Linked DNA regions of Homo sapiens: all the other regions are linked to region 2. The links come from fine-mapping of genetic effects on gene expression. A gene starts in region 2. Each other region holds a variant in brackets. All regions are shown on one strand. Distances are from middle to middle. Region 1 overlaps PPP1R37 (protein phosphatase 1 regulatory subunit 37). Region 2 holds the start of PPP1R37 (protein phosphatase 1 regulatory subunit 37). Region 3 overlaps PPP1R37 (protein phosphatase 1 regulatory subunit 37).

Region 1 (6,294 bases), 24 kb after region 2:
GCAGGCACCAGGCATTCAGAGAGCTTTACCTCCTGTCCTCTTGACTCTTCATGGCAAAGCTGGAAATGGGGAGACTGAGGAACAGAGTTACTTGGCCCCAGTGCTGCCTCTGATTTGAGGAGGCAGGGTCAGCCCTGGGCCATCGCTGCCTTTGTCCCTGAGTCTGCGTTCCCCTCCACTCCGTGAGCTCACTCAGAGAGTTCTCTCCGCCCCCTCACCACTCTTGGTGATTATTTATCCCCAGGTCTTCACTTCGGCACCATCAGGTGCCCAGCCCTGGGTAAATATTTGTCTCAGGGCAGACAGGAGTGGGTGTGGTCAGCGTTTCAGAGCCCGGGGGCAGGTGGAGGCAGCAGGTGGGGTGGTGACTGGGGGCCCCTGGCTGGAGCTGGTGGCTCTGCTTGCTCTTTGCTCATCCAGCATCCACTCTCCCGGGGGCTGCTGAGGCGTTGGCCTCTGCAATAACAGGGGCTTCCGTTTGCCACGCGCCAGCCCCACACTAGACGCTTTACACAAGAGAGTTCAGTGGCTGCTTTTAGAAGTCTTTGTGTGTCAGTCTCAGTCTCATTGGCTCCATTTTGCAGATGAGGAGACTCAGCCATGAAGGGTCGAGAGCCATTGCCTGTGTCAACTGGGGTCTGTTGAGTTATCAGGGCCAGAATCCACCTGGGGCCACAGGAGGTGAATGAGGGTGTTCATTGGATGGAGGCCAGGCTTTGCCTGTTCCCAGGGGTCCTGAAAGCTGGCAGGAACCAGGTCTGCCACCTGCTCTCTGGAACACATGCACTCCTTGTTCCTCTTTCTCTCTTCAGAACGTCTTCCACTAGGCTGGCCATGGGCCACACAAGCCCAGCCCTCCTGGTGTCTGGAACAGGACCACCCAGTCCAGCCCCCTGACCCGGGCAGCTCATGCAGGCTTAGCTAGGACCCCACATCCTCCCTGTCAAATGGGCGATAGAGGGCCAGCCCACGCTTGTTGGGGTGGAGGGCAGTTTTTAGAGGAGGCTCTGCAGACACCCCAAATAGGCACCCCCAAATACAAGGTCTGACTGCAAAGGCCATGCCCTCACTAGGTTGCTGTTACATGTGTTTAGAAGGTGCATTCACAGGCTGGGCATAGTGGCTCACACCTATAATTCCAGCACTTTGGGAGGCCGAGGCAGGAGGATCACTTGAGGCCAGGAGTTCAAGACCACCCTGGGCAACAAGTGAGACCCCCCCCCCCATCTCCACAAAATATAAAAAATTAAATTTTCGGAAGGTGCATTCACATCACAAGGCAGAAAGTCACTAGTGTCCTCAGATGTGTACATCCCTTTGGGAAGCTCCTTCCAGCTGGGGGGCTTATGGAGGCCATAAAGGAACCCCCTAACTCCCCCTACACATCCCAGCAGAAAGCCCTGGGCTAGGGGACAGTCTTGGGCCCTTGTGTTCTGAGAGTGTTATTAGTCTCCACCACAGGATTGGCTGTGTTTTCTTAGTGGTTCAGGCATGCATTCAGCGAGTATTGAGCTCAGTGCCCAGTCCTGTACTGGGGACACAGCAGTGGCAAGGCAAGCCCGGCCCTGCCTTCCAGGCTTATTGTCCAGAGAGAGGGAAGTGTGGGAAACAAGTTGGCCAACCAGCAGACAGCACCACTGCAGATTGAGAGAAGGGTCTGGAAGGAAATAAACCAAGGCTGGAACAGAGGAGACAGTGGCGAGGCTGGTGGGTAGGTACCTGGCTTGGGTCAGGATATTGAACGCCTTAAACTCTTGGGTGAGGCATGGGGTCCACCAACCAGATGAAGTGGGCTTTGAAGTCAGGCCTACCTGTGCTGTGTGTCCTTGGCACATGCTCCATCTCCCTGCGCCTCAGTTTCCTCCTTTGGAAAGGATGGGGGAGGGATAGCTGTACCCCAAACCGTGGCATGAACAGAAAGGTCAAGGGTTTGGCTAAGAGTGAGGATTGTGGAGCCATAGACTGCTCAGGCTCGAATCCCGGCTCTGACTTTTACTGATTCTGTGGCCTCAGTTTCCCCATTTGAAATGGGGATAATAAACCCTACCTATCTTAGGGTTGTTGAAGACAGTAAATGAGGTAGTATATGTAAGTGCTTGCCATTGCTCGTAAAAATTATTTATCGTTAAAAGTTGCGGCCAGGCGCAGTGGCTCACATCTATAATCCCAGCACTTTGGGAGGCCGAGGCGGGTGGATCATCTGAGGTCCGGAGTTCGAGACCAGCCTGGCCAACATGGTGAAACCCCGTCTCTGCTAAAAATACAAAATTAGCCTGGTGTGGTGGCGGGTGCCTATAATCCCACCTACTCGGGAGGCTGAGGGAGGAGAATTGCGTGAACCCAGGAAGCGGAAGTTGCAGTGAGCTGAGATTGTGCCACTGCACTCCAGCCTGGGTGACAAGAGTGAGACTCTGTCTCAAAAAAAAAAAAAAAGTTGTGTGTCACATGGGGGGACTCGGGTGCTTAGCACACTGCTTGACTGGGGACCCAGGGATTAAGGCCTTGACTTCCGCTTTCATCCAAGCCTGCCATTGACCTTACATGCAGCTGCTGTGTGTGAGGCGCTGTGGCATGAGGGAAGGTGCGCCCAATCTGCCTTGTTCCTTCCGTCCCAAGAGACTTGGAAAGCCATGAGTGTGTTCTGACCGCATCTGTTTCTGTAACAGGATCTTCAGCTGCGGCAGGCAGTTG[G/A]GAAGGTCAGGACGAGGGGAAGGGAAGGCAGGCCTGTGGCACCTGCCATCTGCGCCCTTCACTGGAGTGGGCAGGCCTTGCCCACATCCCTGCCTGAGGCCTGGGGTCTGGAGGCCTGGCTCCTTGTTGGCTATGTAAGCCTAGCCCGCCCCCTGGAGCTGGCCATCCTGCAGCATGTGGCCACGGTACCCACTGGCTGAATGGTGGTGCCTCCCTGCCGGGAAGGGCAGAGAAGAGCCCCTCTCACCCAGGAAACTGCAGGACTCACGGCCTCTCAGCAGGCCTGAGGAGGGCACGGGGGTCTGAGAGGGAAGGACCGGCCATCCCAGCCTCCCCTGAGCAGGCTAACTTTCCAGGACGCATTGCGGGCTCCCTTCCCTCCAGCCCGTGGTTCTCTGGGGAGAAGGGAAGGGTGGACGTTGTCTTCATTTCCCAGAGTGAGTCGGTGCATTCGTTCATTCATAGACTCACAGCGACAGACACCACAGTGACGTCCCTAGACTCAGGGAGCCCTTGGTCTAGGACAGAAAACGAGCAAGTAGATCCTTAGAGATTGGGACGTGTCCAGTGAGGAGGCAGAGTGTTGTCTGGGTGTGGTGTGGGGGATGGGGATGGGGGTGCTGCTACAGAAAGGGGTCAGGAGAGGCTTCTCAGAGGAGGTGACTTTTTTTTTTTTTTTTTTTGAGACAGAGTTTCGCTCTTTTTGCCCAGGCTGGAGTGCAGTGGCACGATCTTGGCTCACTGCAGCCTCCATCTCCCAGCTCAAGCGATTCTCCTGTCTCAGCCTCCCAAGTATCTGGGACTACAGGCACGTGTCACCACACCCGGCTAATTTTTGTATTTTTAGTAGAGATGGGGTTTCACCATATTGGTCAGGCTGGTCTCGAACTCCTGACCTCAAGTGATGCACCCGCCTCAGCCTCCCAAAGTGCTGGGATTACAGGTGTGAGCCATTGCGCCTGGCCAGGAGGTGACTTTCGAGTTGAGATCTGAATGGCAAGTCAGCTGCGGCTTAAGCTGCAGGAGGGGAGGGAAGCTGTCAGAGGGAGGGAAGAGCAGTTGCAGACCCGGAGGCGGGAACAAACCACAAAGCCTGTAGAGTGGCTGAGGAGGCGTGGGCGAGCCGAGGGTGAGCCCCGGTGGAGTGCTGGCATCAGGGGGCCTTGTCCTGGGCTGAGGAGTTGAGGTTTTACTCTCAGTGCAGGGACAGGTGGTGCCGAGTGAAAGCCTGTGGCAGCAACCAGCCCGCTCCTGCACGGTCTCCTAAGCTAATTGTGCGCCTGCTTTGGGTCTGAATGGCGGGGACTGCACAGGACGTGGGTTTTCCTTCTACGGTGGGAGGTGATCTCAGGGAGTCTCCCTGCAGGTCCCCACCAGGTCTTCTGTGTGCCTACCATGGGCATGCAGTTCTGAAGCGCTGACTGGTGGTGGGAAACCTAGCCTGGAGATTGTCCCAGCCATCCCACCCAAGGCAGGGACAGGCCAGTGGGGCTACCCGAGCAAAGGCTTAGGGCAGCTGGTAGACCGGGCTGCAAGAATGAGGCCGCAGAGTTAGTCTTAGAGTAGCACCTGGCAGGAGGCTGGCTCCGTAAGCCAGTGCTCGTCCTTGGCATTGTTGACTCAGTGGCTCAGCTGATGAGCCCGAGGCTGCTGGGGAAGGTGTCCTCCTCAGCCTTACAGCTCCAGCCCCCGCGTGATCCGCGTTTCTCAGGCCTCTGGGTTACTGAGAGGCTGTTGGGGGTGGAGGTGCCCAGCGGTTGTTCACTGGGAAGAAGAACTCACCACCAGCGTCCCTTCATTTTTCCCAAGGAGTCACAGGCAGAGGTTTTTCCGAACAGGCTCAGCAGCCAGAAGTCCCCGCCTGGGCTTCCAACTGCCTACAGAGGTAGCTGCAGCCCTCCCCTCAGGCTGGCCTGTGTCACTGCCCTATTCTATGTCCAGGCCTCCCGGCACCCAGCCGCTGTCCCCATGAGTGCCCAGGGGAGCTCCCAGTTTAGCAGGGGGAGAGGGTTCCCCAGTGCAGAGTGGGTGGGAAGCCCGGGGCCTGTGACCTGTGTCACAGGGCATCTGAGGATGTTGTTCCTGGAAGGCAAGTGTGTGGCCACGGAGCTGACTTTGGGCTCTCATTTAGGAGGCTGACTCTGAAGGTCATAGTGGCTCAGCAGTGAAAGAGGAGGATCCCCACAGTGTGTGGTCTGTGTGGTCACTCAGGGATGTGACCTTTCTGACCCTCCTCTTCTTTGTCTTGGGTTGGGGGTCCCGGCCATATCCCCTTCCCAGGGATGTGCTAAGGTTTCAGGGAGCTCGGGTACATAAAGGGCTTGCCTGAGATAACTGCGTAGTAAATGACAGCTGTCAGTGGACTCCCTGCCGAACGTTGGGACACCACAGTTACGGACTTGTGCCAGGAGCCCCAGCTTCCTGCCACCCCTCACCGTGTACCTCAGAGTTCTCCTTTGACAACCCTCCATCTGGCTGTCCTGTCCCTCAGGGGTGGGCATGAGGCCCAAGTTCCTTCCTTCCTTTAGCCCACGTTCACTGAGCACCTGCTGGCCGGGCCCCAGGGAGCCACCCAGGTGGCTGCCTCCACAGCCGGGCTGGGCTTTATAACTAATTCTGTCGTGAGAGACTGGCCTTGGTGCCAGACCTCCCTCCCGGCCCACCTGCCGCCTCTGGGTTCCTTGTGGGCCACCGCCTCTGAGCAGCTGCTGCTTTTTTTTTTTTCTCATTTAACTTTTTGTTTTGTTTTTTGGTTTTTGAGACGGAGTCTCATTCTCTGTCACTCATGCTGGAGTGCAGTGGTGTGATCTCACTCACTGCAGCTTCCACCTCCTGGGTTCAAGCGATTCTCCTGCCCCAGCCTCCCGAGTAGCTGGGATTACAGGCACGTGCCACAACACCCGTCTAATTTTTTTTTTTTTTTGAGACAGAGTCTTGCTCTCTGTCACCCAGGCTGGAGTGCAGTGACACGATCTCAGCTCACTGCAGCCTCTGCTTCCCAGGTTCAAGCGATTCTCCTGCCTCAGCCTCCTGAGTAGCTGGGATTACAGGCATGTGTCACCATACCTGGCTAATTTTTGTATTTTGTAGAGATGGGGTTTTGCCCTGTTGGCCCGACTGGTGTCGAACTCCTGACCTCAGGTGATCTGCCCACCTTGGCCTCCCAAAGTGCTGGGATCACAGGCATGAGCCACGGTGCCTGGCCCGTTTAACTGTGTTTTGATGGACATTTTCAGACACAAGAAAGTAGGAGTATAATGAGTCTGATGGACCGACCCACTTTCTGGCTTCAGAATTGATGACTACATGGCCAATCTGTTCCTGCCTATCTCCATGCCACTCTCACCTGCATTATTTTGCAGCAGCTCTAAGATAGCTATCATTTTACCTATACATTGCTTGTGAAACAGTGGGAACACTCAGCCCCAAGCCGGCACCCTCTGTCCTCCACTGTCATCTGCCCCAGGCCCAGGATCAGACCACTGGGAAAGTGGCCAGGTAGGGCTGTGTCTCTTGTGGCTCTGCACACATGAGAGGTGGTGGGTGTGGTGCTCAGAGAAGAGCCAGCTCCACCCCCCAGCACCCCGCACAACCTTGCTGTTT
Region 2 (6,049 bases):
CTTCCTGCTCTTTTTCTTCACTCAACAGCCAAGACAATGCAAACTCCAGTGAACATTCCCGTGCCTGTGCTCCGGCTGCCCCGGGGCCCTGATGGCTTCAGCCGTGGCTTTGCCCCTGATGGACGCAGAGCCCCCTTGAGGCCAGAGGTTCCTGAAATCCAGGAGTGTCCCATAGCTCAAGAATCCCTGGAATCCCAGGAGCAGCGGGCACGAGCCGCCCTTCGGGAGCGTTACCTCCGCAGCCTGCTGGCCATGGTGGGTCATCAGGTGAGCTTCACGTTGCACGAGGGTGTGCGTGTGGCCGCCCACTTTGGAGCCACCGACCTGGATGTGGCCAACTTCTACGTGTCACAGCTGCAGACTCCCATAGGTGTGCAAGCAGAGGCGCTGCTCCGATGTAGTGACATTATTTCATATACCTTCAAGCCATAAAGATATTGTGTTCACTTTTCTGCTTGAGGCTAAGGCACTGTATCCCAGGCCTCCCAATGTTCCCGAGCCAGGAACTCTGGGCCCCATGGAGTTATGAGCTCCCTTGGAATTTTGAGCCAAGCTTTAAGCAAGTCTGGACTCCTGAGACCTCCTGGGTCTAGTCAGTAAAATTCTGCAACTCTAGGAATTCTAAGATCCCATTGGAAGGAATGCTCTACCTCACAGAACTCTGAACCCTACAGAAATATGGGCCTGCTGCCATTTCCTGAAGACCGGGGCATCGGGGTGGGGTGATAAAGGATACAACCTGCACAGGGGGAAGTTATTAAAGAGGCTGCAAAGTCCAGCCACCCTGAAGATACTCCCCAGTGCTCCCCTCCTGCTAAAGAACCAGTTACCCCAGGAAAATTCGACTCCTGTTTTTCTTTAATTAACTATACCGACGGGGATGGAGTCATCTTTAGGGGCTGGTAGGGTGGTTATCCAAGGGCTGAATCCAGTGGAGCTGGGCCAAGTACGACAGGAGTCCAGATAAAGGTGTAGGGGCTGCACGGCCGCAAGTCTCCTGGAAAGGCTGGAGTGACCGGCATGCCGGGATTGGGAGATTAGGATTTGATTTCATTTTGGGGCGGGCGGTGGCTCGTGCTGGGTCACGTGGTCGTGCCCAAGCGCTCCTCCTGTTGCCCCACCTGTGGTTGCTGTGGACTGCACACGACAGCAGATTCGCTGTCCCCTCGTTGGAGGCGAATGGTCGGACCCCGAGTGGCGGCGCCCCTGATAAAAGGCCGAGGATTCGCGATCAGGGTGCAACTTCACTCCCTCCTCTTTTCTCTCCAGCCTTGCAGCGTGGCCGTTCACATCACGCGCTTCACTAAGCCTCCTATCACTAGTAACCTTTCAGCGCATTGTTTAAAAAGAAAGCAGTTTCTGTCCCTTTCTGTAGTTCCTTTAAGTTCAGGATGTAAGCGAAGCCTTCCATTAAGTAAAGGTGAGTGTCGTTTCGTCTCAGTCGCGAAAGTGCGGCGGCCGATGATGAACCGCGCCAGGAGCAGCCTCAGCGGCCATCAGTCCATTCGCAGCGCCGGCTCCGCCGAGGCCCGGACTTAGCTCTCGAGTTGCCTTGGCGACGACGCAGCTCGCTCCGCCCCAGTTCCCTTTTATGGTTTCAGCCCCGCCTCCTCTAGTTAGCCGGGTGCGCTTCGGCAAGCGTGGCGAAAGTGCGGCGGCGAATGTCAAGCGTTGGGTCTGAGCCTAGGGGTGTGGCTTGAGCTCACGCTGGTTCTTTCTTGCCTCGGTGATCCACCAGCCTTGTCACCCAGGATTTAGGTTGGCAGATTCGTCTCTCGCCTTTGGAATTTCTACCTTCTCCTAGGTTTTGTTTTTTAAAATCAGGCCTATGATACCGCTCATGGGCTCATATTTATTTTAGCATTGTAATTTAAGTTGTATTTTATGCAACTCTACCCCGATACAGAGAGCTGTTGATGTAACTGCAGCGAGCAAATGGAGGACTAGAGACTAGCGAAGGGGCCGAGACTTCGTCTCCAGAGTATCCCTGTCAGCATCCATCAACTGCACTCATATATTGAATGCAGCTCCTATCCGCCTTTCTTTTCGACTTCTTCATGCCGTTACCACTCTTCATCAGTTAGTCTAGCCTCAATGTTTTCATTTATTTCCTTTGTTTTTTTTGGGGGGGGGGGAACGGAGTCTTGCTCTGTCGCCCAGGCTGGAGTGCAGTGGCACGATCTCGGCTCACTAAAAGCTCCGCCTCCCGGGTTCACACCATTCTCGTGCCTCAGGCTCCCGAGTAGCTGGGACTACAGGCGCCCGCCACCACGCCCGGCTAATTTTTTGTATTTTTAGTAGAGACGGGGTTTCACCGTGTTAGCCAGGATGGTCTCGATCTCCTAACCTCGTGATCCGCCCGTGTCGGCCTTCCAAAGTGCTGGGATTACAGGCGTGAGCCACCGCGCCCGGCCCATTTCTTTCCTTTCGTTGAGACAGGGTCTGGCTCTGTCTACCAGGTCGGAGTGCAGGGGCGCGATCATAGCTCAGTGCAGCCTCAACCTACCGGGCTCAAGCGATCTTCCCACCTCCCAAGTAGCTGGAACTACAGGCTCCTGTAACCAGACCCTGCTAATTTTTAAATTTTTTGTAAAGACGGGGCCTTGCTATGTTGCCCAGGCTGGTCTCGAACTCCTGGACTCAAGCGATCTTCCCGCCTCAGCCTTCCAAAGTGCTGGGATTATAGGCGTGTGCCGCCGCGCCCCGCCAGGTGTTTTCAGTTCTATGCACTCCATTCCCTGGGCTCTTGACGAATGTGCGGGAGCTGAATATTCGTTATTTGGACTCCGGCAGGAAGGCGTGGGCTCAGCTTCGCGCTTGCGCGCTGCTCTTGGAGACGGCGTCTACTTCGCCCCGCCCCTCATAGTCTGCAGTTCCGGCTCTGCAGATTCGCTGCTCACGTTTCTTTTTTCCGTGGCCCTTCCTGCCCTTTGTTTCTCTCTTCATGTCACCCGCGGGACAACTCTACGTGCAAGTCGCTGAAATCGATTTTCTGCTTCTTATAGTAAGCGGCGGGCTCGCCAGCCTCGAGCGAAAGTGTGACTGCGAACGGGCAGGCGCGCGCGGGGCTCGGCGGAGGCGCGCTTGGGCTCCCGGCGGCGACGACTACGACCACTAGGAGAGCGGACGGAGGCGGCGCCTGAAGCGGCGGCGGAGCCCATGCCCCGGGACGGCGGGCGGACCCGGAGAGACAAATCCGGGGCCCGGGGCATGTCCCCGGGGCCCCCGTGAGGAGGCGGCGGCGGCTATGGAGATCGCGCCGCAGGAGGCGCCGCCCGTGCCGGGCGCGGACGGCGACATTGAAGAGGCCCCAGCTGAGGCCGGGTCTCCCAGCCCCGCGTCGCCCCCCGCCGATGGGCGCCTCAAGGCTGCAGCCAAGCGCGTCACATTCCCGTCCGACGAGGATATCGTGTCTGGAGCAGTGGAGCCCAAAGACCCCTGGAGACATGGTAGCTACCGCGGGTGAAGCGGGGGCGGGCTCGAGAGGGACCCGGGAGTCGGGAGGGATCGGTGCAGGGCCCGGCTCGAGGTGGCGTTCAATAGATTGCACCTAATGGTGAATAAGGGGACAGTCGTCAGTTTAGAACCGTAGTCTGTTAGAAAGGGGGTGGCTATGGAGTTGGGAAGGTGAAAAGTATCTGGTTTCTGCCGCACCCCACCCACCCGAGACAAAGATGGTGATCGTTTTAGGGTTTAAAACGATGAGCAATTAAAGAAAGTTTGGTGTTTTGTCAGATGTAGAGTGTGGCAGCCTTTGCGTTCGTAGTTCCACCAGAGAAGGAGAGAAGGAGCAGTTGAGAGGAGGAGCGGGTCAACACTGGGCCTGAAAGGGCAGTTGAAAGAGTTTGATGGGTCTATGGGGGTAAAAAGAGGTTAAGTTGCTGGTCTGCAAGCCTTGGGGCAAGGAGTGGTCGTGTTGGCCACTTTCTTGGCTGGAAAGAGGGAGACTATAAACTTGGACTGTGGCTATAGAGGACTTGGTAAAAAGGAGTCAAGATAAGGTCCCAGAAGAGGAGCAGAGGTGGTGGTCAATTTGTGGTTGGGTGAGGGAGAAAGAGGCAGTGTGGTTTTTATGTTTTCTTTTTTATTGAGACAAGGTCTCACTACATTGCCCAGGCTGGTCTCGGACTTCTGGGTTCAAGCTGTCCTCCCTCCTTGGCCTCCCAGAGTGTTGGGATTACAGGTGTGAGCCACCGCCGCCTGCTGCAATGTGGTATTAAGAAGAAAAGCCAACGCCTACCGCCGCCTCCTCCTCCAAAAAAAAGAGAAGCAGAAGGAAGGCTGTCAGTCATTCAGGAGCAGAGGATGTTTGGGACATGGCTACGGAAGGGTCCTCTTGTTCCTTCCTGAGAAAGAATTGGGGGATGGCCGGGTGCATTGGCTCAGGCGTGTAATCCCAGCACTTTGGGAGGCCAAGGTGGGTGGATCACCTGAGGTCAGGAGTTTAAAACCAGCCTGGCCAACATGGGGAAACCCCGTCTCTACTAAAAATACAGAAATTGGCCGGGCATAGTGGTGCACACCTGTAATCCCATCTACTCAAGAGGCTGAGGCAGGGAGAATCGTTTGAACCCGGGAGGTGGAGGTTGCAGTGAGCTAAGATCACGACATTGTACTCCAGCCTGGGTGACAAGAGCAAAACTCCGGCTCAAAGAAAAAAAAAAAAAGAATTGGGGGATGTTATCAAGTCAGAAATTGGAGTTGCTGGCCAGTAGCAGGTGAGAGAGATGAAAAAGTTGGCTACTTGAAGTGTTGGGAGAGAGGGCCAGCGCACTGGAGAGGGTCAGGTCAGTGTTGGAGCTGAAAGGAGTGTGTTGGAGCCATAGGGCTGGGAAAGTGGAAAGTCGCTTGGGACATGCAGGGCAGTGTTGAGTCCATTTTGTGCTGGAGAAGTCTGTCAGTTCTCCTGGGGTGGAGCCCATGAAGTGAGGGATCAGACTGGCTGTGGTGGCCGTGGTTCTGTAGAAGCTGATCTGCCGGCCCTGGGCAAGGGGAGAAACTATTGCCAGTCTGTGGACAATGGAGGAATTGGTGGCTTTGATGTGAGGGTGGGAAACATGGTAACTGGAAACTGAACACACAGGGAGTCCATCATGAATGACAGTTTGGCTACTTATTATAATTTTTTAGACGGAGTCTCCCTCTGTCGCCCAGGCCAATTCTCCTGCCTCAGCCTCCTCAGTATCTGGGATTACAGGCACCTGTCATCACACCTGGCTAAAAATGTTTGTATTTTTAGTAGAGTTGGGGGTTTCACCATGTTGGCCAGGCTGGTCTCGAACTCCCGACCTCAGGTGATCTGCCCACTTAAGCCTTCCAAAGTGCTGGGATTACCGGCATGAGCCACCGTGCCCGGCTGGCTAGTTATTCTTAAAGAGGCAGTGGTTAAATTAAGACTTTTGGGCCGGACGCCATGGTTCATGCCTGCAACCCCAGCACTTTGTCAGGCCAAGGTGGGCAGATCACCTGAGCCCAGGAGTTCAAGACCAGCTTGGGCAACAAGGTGAAACCGCGTCTCTGCAAAATATACGAAAATTAGCCAGGTGTGGTGGTGCACGCCTGTAGTCCCAGCAACTCAGGAGGCTGAAGTGGGAGGATCATTTGAGCCCAGGAGGTCGATAGTGCAGTGAACTGTGATTGCGCCACTGAACTCCAGCTTGGGTGACAGAGACCCGGTCTTAAAAAAAAAAAAAAAAAAAAGAGTTTTGGCACTAGGAGCCAGCCAAGTCCTTGGGCTCTAGGCCCCAGGGATAGGTGGTTAGTTTGGGACCCGGGCACAGTCAGAATGCCCCCTGGCTATTGCGTGATATCCAGTCCAGAGCAGGAAGGGGAAAGACCTGGAGAGGCAGAGCAGGGTGTTTCAAGAGCAGAGGCTCCAGGTCAGATCCTTTGAGACCTCGGGCTGGTTACCTAACTCCTGAGCCTCAGTCTTCCCATCTGTGAAGTAGGTGGCAATACTCTTGCCACGGAATTTAGGAGAGGACTGGATGAAGTCACATATGGAAAGGAATTGGCCAGGGTGAGTGTTCTCGATGGCAGTCATTGTTAT
Region 3 (6,294 bases), 56 kb after region 2:
CCTCAGTTTCCCCCTCTTTAAAATGGTTCTCGCAGGGGCCAGCAAAGTGGGGCTTAGTTCTCATCTCCACCCTGCTTCCCTTGGGTCCTGGGAGCTCTTCCTGGGGTGGGGGGGCATGTAAGGTGTGCTGCCTTGAGCCTGACCATCTCAGCGGTCTCTGGGCACTCTGCAGGCCCTGAGGGTCTGGCTGGGGCCGGGCTGGGGACAGGTTGTATTTGCCCCACCCGCCTGACGGGGGTGCTGGCCCGTCCTCCCACACAGAACTGAGCTGCTCCAAGAACGAGAAGGAGCTCGAGGAGCTGCTTCTGGAAGCCAGTCAGGAATCCGGGCAGGAGACACTGTGACACTTTAGGTGAGGCCAGGCCCGGGGCCCACAGCACTCGGGAGGAGCTGAGAGAGCCTCTGGCTCTGACAGTCTCTCCCCCAATCTCTCCTCCCCAAGTTCCCTTTTTCCGGTCGGTCTGCGATGAGCTGAGGCCAGAGCCATGAGAATCTGCTCACCTTCCCCCCAGCCTTCCTGAGGCCCAGGATGCCAGGGGTGGGGGCCATTCTGGGGCCCCCCTCCCCCCACAGCAACACTACAAGGGGTGCAGGAGCTACAGGGAGTGGCCCTCCGCGCGTGACTCAAGCACTTCTATTTATGAGCCCAGCACTGGAAGACTCTGGGGGTGAATGGGAGGAGGGGGAGCAGGAGGAGGAGGAGGTCTCCAAGGACATCAGGCGCCTGTTCTGGAGGGGCCAGGCTTGCCCTGCGGAGGGCAGGCGTCCTGGGTGGTGGTGGGATGGTCCCCTGTGGCCCCGGGCACAGGGCCGGGCAGGCAGCCTGGTGCCGGAGAGGCGGTGCGTGCTGGTGGTGGTTGAGATGCACAGAACAGCCCCAGACAGCGCAGGCCGGGCAGGGTGGGGGGATGGGAGCAGAGGATCAGAGCTTTCTTTTTCTCAAGTGCAATAAATCTATCAGGGAGCTGGGGCGGGAGCAGCCGGCACTCCGGGACCCTGCTGTCCAGGCCACTGGAGGCTGCGCCCTGAGAGGCACTACAGCCCTTTGGGGGCGAGTGGCATGGGTGTGGGTGAGGGTGGGCAGAGGGCTGGGGCTACTCCTGTCGGTGCAACTCTGTTCACACCTTTTCTAATAAACTGGGGCTGGGTTCACTTTGCCCAACGTCTGCTTCGTGCGGATCCTGGAGGTGGTTGCTGGGGGTGGGCTGGGTGGAGGCCATCACAGCTCCTGGTTACAGAGCATCTGCCAGGGCACTGGTCAGGCATTACTGCGTCTTCCCCCACAGTCCCGTCTATTCTGCATCCATGCTCTGGTGTCTCGTACGGTCACCTCCCAGCCAGGCGAGTTTACACCCATCCTTTCTGCAGGGAGAGACAGGCCCCAGATACCTCCTGGCTTCAGGTCTAGGGTCTCAGGATGCTGGATATGGAGTGGCTCTGCCCAGTCGCCCATCGCTCAACAGGAACAGATCCCAGCCTGTCCCTGGCAGCCCCAGGTGTTGTGCAGGTGGGAGTATGCCCCGGGCCCAGCCAGCACTGCAGGAGCCTGGTGGGCGGCTTGTTCCCCTTTGCCAGCAGGGGCCTGGGGGGCCATGGGGGTGCTGTTGCGGATTTCTGAGAGGTCTGTTTTTCCCTTTAGGAAAGGGGGGAGCAGGCCGGGCATGGTGGCCCACACCTGTAATCCCAGCACTTTGGGAGGCTGAGGTGGGAGGATTGCTTGAACCCAGGAATTTGACACCAGCCTGGGCAACATGGTGAAACCCCATCTCCATAGAAAATACAAAAATTAGCTGGGTGTGGTGGCGTGTGCCTGTAGTCCCAGCTACTGAGGAGGCTGAGTTGGGAGGATCGCTTGAACCCAGGAGGTTGAGGCTGCAGTGAGGTGTGATTGCACCACTGCACTTCAGCCTGGGCAACAGAGTGAGATCCTGTCTCAAAAAAAAAAAAAATTACTAAACGAGCATTTCTGGGCCACCCATCCCCTTGTTTCCCGTGTGGGAGGCTGACATGGATGGAGGCGTTGTGGTGACATCACGAGAACCACAGTCGCAGGCTGGAGCCCTGGTGTCATTCAGCTCCTGCACACACCAGGGAGTCCCCTGCCCCCAGCCACCCTGGCCTCTGGGAGGAACACCTTAGGAAGCCACTGCTGGTTTGCTGTTTGGTCCCTTGCAGCTGTAAGTGTCCTAACTGCTCCCCAGGTCAGCCACGGCTAGGACTCTTATTTGGGCGAGGGACTTAGGGAAGCTACACAGAACAGCCGCCAGCAGCCCGCAGCACTCTTCCCATCCCTGCACAGCCAGCTTGTCCCCAGCTCTGCTAATGTGCGATGTGGCCATGGGTGAAGGGAAGAAGGGGCCCCCTCCTGGCCACTGTGGATCCAGCCCGTCTTGGTGAGGGGCCGGGGCATGTGAGGTGTTTGCATCAAGGTACTGAGAGACCTCTGTCCTTCGCCTGGTTTGGGTCAGCACAGTGCCCCAACGATCTTCAGAGGCCCTTGGTCGATATTAGCCGTTGCTCATGGTCTCAGCCTCTGTGGAGGCAGCTGTGTTGGGGTCTCACCCAGCCCGCTGGCCGTCTGCCTCCCCACCCCATGTGAGGTATGCTAGGGGAGGGACAGGGATCCTCTTCCCAGCCTGTCCCTTGATTTGCTTTCACTAAATTGAGCTTGGAGTGAGGAACTGGGCCTTTCTTACTGTTGGGGGTTGAATTGTGTCTCCCACAAAAAAAGATGTTTGTTTATTTATTTATTCATTTATTTATTGAGCTGGAGTCTCGCTCTGTTGCCAGGCTGGAGTGCAGTGGCGCAATCTCGGCTCACTGCAACCTCCGCCTCCCAGGTTCAAGCAATTCTGCTGCCTCAGCCTCCCGAGTAGCTGGGAGTACAGGCGTGCACCACCACGCCCAGCTAATTTTTGTACTTTTAGTAGAGACGGGGTTTCAACATGTTGGCCAGAATGGTCTCAATCTCTTGACCTCGTGATCTGCCCACCTCGGCCTCCCGAAGTGCTGGGATTACAGGCGTAAGCCACTGCGCCTGGCCAAAAAAAGATCTTTAAAGTCCTTACCTCCAGTACCCCAGAATGTGAGCTCACTTAGAAATAGGGTTTTTACAAAGGTAATCAAGTTTTAACTCATT[T/A]TAATGAGGTCACTCGGGTGGGCCCTGCTGCAGTCTGATTGGTGTCCTTATTAAAAGGGGCATTTGGGCACAGGGAGACTGCCACGTGAAGACAGAGGATGGGGTGATGCCTTTGCAAGCCAGGGAGTGCGGAGATGGCCAGCAATGCACCAGGAGTGGGGAGCAGGCACAGAGAGCCCCTCCTTCATCTGGAACTTTTAGCCTCCAGAAGCGAGAGACGATACATTTGTCCTTCAAAGGCACGTGGTCTGTTAGACTGTGTTAGAGCAGCTCTAGAAACCACAGCCGTTACCACAACACCCCAGCCTGCCGCGCTCCTGATTTTCTGAAGGGTCCCAGATCGAGGGCTGGAGGCTGAGAGGATCCCCCTTGCCATCTTGTCTTCCCCTTCCCTTCAGCCACCCAAGTGTCACCCGAGCTTGTCACGTTTTGGTAGCCTTTGCTGAAGACGTAGGGGGTCTGTTTCATGCAAGATCTCAATGTCCTAACACAGGAGATGTTTATTGTCACATGTGGATGTTCAGAGTGGCAGGCAGCTCTTCACCAAGTTATTCCTGGACCCAGGCCCCTTTGAAGCTCTTAGGGCTCTGTTGCTCCCCAGGGCCTCAAGGATCCCGGATCAAGTGGGCAGATGGGGGAAGGGAGTGGAGAAGGGAAACCTGCTCCCTGACTCATTGCTGGGAAAGGCGCACAGGTCAGCCGTGCTCCTTTTTTGTTCGTGACAACGGTCCCGTGGCTTTACACAGGTGCAAGTTCTCATAGCAGCTCCACGTGAAGATACAGTGACCAACAGTTTGGCCACAGCTTGTACCACGTAACAGAGGCTGCGGCTTTTTTTTTTAATCAGTCGGAGTCTTGCTCTGTCGCCCAGGCTGGAGTGCAGTGGCACCATCTTGGCTCCAGCCACCACCTCCCGGGTTCAAGTGATCCTCCCACCTCAGCCTCCTGAGTAGCTGGGATTACAGGCATGCACCACCATGCCCAGCTAATCTTTTTGTATTTTTATTAGAGACAGGGCTTCACCATGTTGGCCAGGCTGATGCAGCTTCTTACTGAGGCATGGGGGGCTTCAGTCCTGCCCTCACCTCCAGCCAAGTCTACACGTTAGCATCTCTCACAGCACCCCACTCCTGGTAACAGGAGTGAAAATTTATTTTCAGCTTGGATTCCAGGTGGTAAGAAACAAACCCAACTGAAACTGGCTTAAGGGAGGCTACAGGGATATATTGACCCCAACCACACATCTACAGAAACAGACTTAACGGTGTCACGAGGCCCCATCCTTCTCCCTCTGAGGCCAGCTCTCCCTGACTGCTGGGAAACAGCTCCCAGGAGGTCCAGGCGTATCCTACCAGCTTAGTCAGTCCAGGAATGGGAAACAGCACCTCTGCTTGCCCAGCCCCAGGGAAGATCATAGAGGGCTCCCACTGACCTGCATGCACCTGTGACAATTGCTGTGGCCAGAGAACTCCGGTGCTGCAGCCAGACCTGGATGCTATGCCCAGCCTTGGAACTAAAGAACTGTGAGGTCAGTGACCCAGTCCCATGGCCTGAGGGTGTGTGCCTTTGCAGAGCTCTCAGGTTCCTCGGGGGCTGTCCCCTCCACCAGCCTCAGGGCCCTGGCTCAGAAGCCACACCCTCAGCCTCATCCCAGGGTATGTTCAGTGTTGGCCCTTGTGGCCCCTGCCGGCACACACTTGGAACTGGGCCAGGCACCCCAGGGCCTGAGCGTGTGGCTGAACATTTGACCAGTGAGGAATCAGGAACTGCCCAGAGGAGTGACACCCACCCCCAGCCCAGGGCTCTGCCCAGAGGGAAAGTGGGGGAGCCCTAGTGTAACCCCTCCTGGCTGGCTGTGGCTTGGGCCCTGTATGTCCCCATCTCTGCCCAACTTCCCTGTCCTCATCAGGGGGCTGATGCAGTGGCTTCAGTGTCAGTGACTAACCAGTGGCCCTGGAGTGACTCGTAAGGCAGGTACCCTGTGGACAGTTATTTGTCTGGGGGAGGTTAGTGCCACCCACTCCAGCTGGCTGAGGTGCCAGCGAGGTCTAACCCATTACGTTGAGAATGGAGCCACCCTAGGGGTGGAGCAGCTTGCTGAGGTCACCGAGGTCATCCTCAGAAATGCCAGCCCCTGCCCTACTCACAGAGGGGCAAGCTAGGGCATGGGGACAAGGACTGGGATTCCCTGAGGCCTGGGCGCTCCATGTTGCCTGAGTCAACCTGGCCCATCCACCTGTCATCTCTGCAGCCTCACCCACCACCCCCGCAGCCTCTCCTGCCACAGAGATGCCAGATGAGGAGGCCAGCATGGTGCAGAGGAGTAAGTGGGCTTAGCAGGATGGGGCAGGCCCTGTGGCAGGACGGGGCAGGCCTGGTCCCTGGTCAGATCAGGATGCGGAGAGCAACTCCGGGCTCTCAACACCTCCATTTATTGCATGTATACCCTGACTTCCTCACTGGTCCTTCTGTGCCTGCTCTCATGCTGGCACCGGCTTGTGGCCGCACTCCTTGGAAGCTATGTCCACGGCTCTGGCTCAGGTTCACCTGGGGGTGTGGGCCTCACAGGGCTCATTCGGACCCTGGGTTGCGGCCCCAGTCCAGCCCCCTATTCTCCCATCTGGGCAGATGGAGGAACCCTTGCCTCCTGCTGCCCGCCAAGTCCTCCATTTAAGGCCCACCTGGGCTGGATTGCCCTGGACGGAAGAGCGCACAGGCCACCGGCCATAGCTTGCCCCTGTGGGCCAAGTCCCCAGTGTGGTGGCCTTCGCCGGCTTGCCCTGAGGCACGGCCCGACGGGGGCGCCCTGGAGGCGCTGTTGGCCCGGTGGGCAGCGTGGGGGGTATCGCGGGTAGGGGACTTGGGCGGGCTGGGCGGCTTGAGCGCGCTGACGGCTCGGATGAGACCCATGCGCCGGCGGATGGAGTGGTCCAGGTTGACCGTGCAGCGCAGCAGGCTCTGCGCCTCGGCCACGGTGAAGGGGAAGTCGGCGCCCAGGAAGCGCTCGAAGAGCTCGGGGTCGCCGTCCAGGTCGAGCACGTTCTGCAACGCCTTGGTCATGGTGTGCAGCTCGCGGCTGTTGTCGCGGAAAACGTCCCAGAGGCGCGCGCGGCCCTCGGGCGCGCCCCCGGTCTGCTGCCGGTCCTCCAGGCACT

What was found. PIP is the estimated chance that this variant, and not a neighbour inherited with it, causes the effect.
Region 1: its variant is fine-mapped to the expression of PPP1R37 in whole blood (INTERVAL, PIP above 0.99).
Region 3: its variant is fine-mapped to the expression of PPP1R37 in whole blood (INTERVAL, PIP 0.96).

What each region holds. Positions count from the first base shown.
Region 1 is chr19:45,113,557-45,119,850 of GRCh38, forward strand. All of the region lies in intron 1 of PPP1R37 (protein phosphatase 1 regulatory subunit 37), which reads left to right. Among named protein-coding and RNA genes, the nearest start is that of PPP1R37, 24 kb to the left of the region's middle. RefSeq lists enhancers at 2,875-3,530, 3,709-3,868, 5,409-5,458, 5,639-5,688. The variant G/A (reference allele first, on the strand shown) is at 2,692.
Region 2 is chr19:45,090,079-45,096,127 of GRCh38, forward strand. It overlaps PPP1R37 (protein phosphatase 1 regulatory subunit 37), which reads left to right and starts at 3,101. Exons shown (of 13, transcript NM_019121.2): 1 at 3,101-3,449. The coding sequence starts at 3,248. It overlaps GEMIN7 (gem nuclear organelle associated protein 7), which reads left to right. Exons shown (of 3, transcript NM_024707.3): 3 at 29-1,440. The coding sequence starts at 37. The coding sequence ends at 432. GEMIN7-AS1 (GEMIN7 antisense RNA 1) reads right to left here and starts at 313. Exons shown (of 2, transcript NR_134887.1): 1 at 1-313. RefSeq lists enhancers at 1-708, 709-1,703, 1,314-1,363, 2,704-2,753 and silencers at 1,472-1,656, 3,174-3,383.
Region 3 is chr19:45,146,129-45,152,422 of GRCh38, forward strand. PPP1R37 (protein phosphatase 1 regulatory subunit 37) reads left to right here. Exons shown (of 13, transcript NM_019121.2): 12 at 262-352; 13 at 443-1,157. The coding sequence ends at 344. It overlaps NKPD1 (NTPase KAP family P-loop domain containing 1), which reads right to left. Exons shown (of 5, transcript NM_198478.4): 5 at 3,616-6,294. The coding sequence ends at 5,810. Among named protein-coding and RNA genes, the nearest start is that of NKPD1, 12 kb to the right of the region's middle. The variant T/A (reference allele first, on the strand shown) is at 3,140.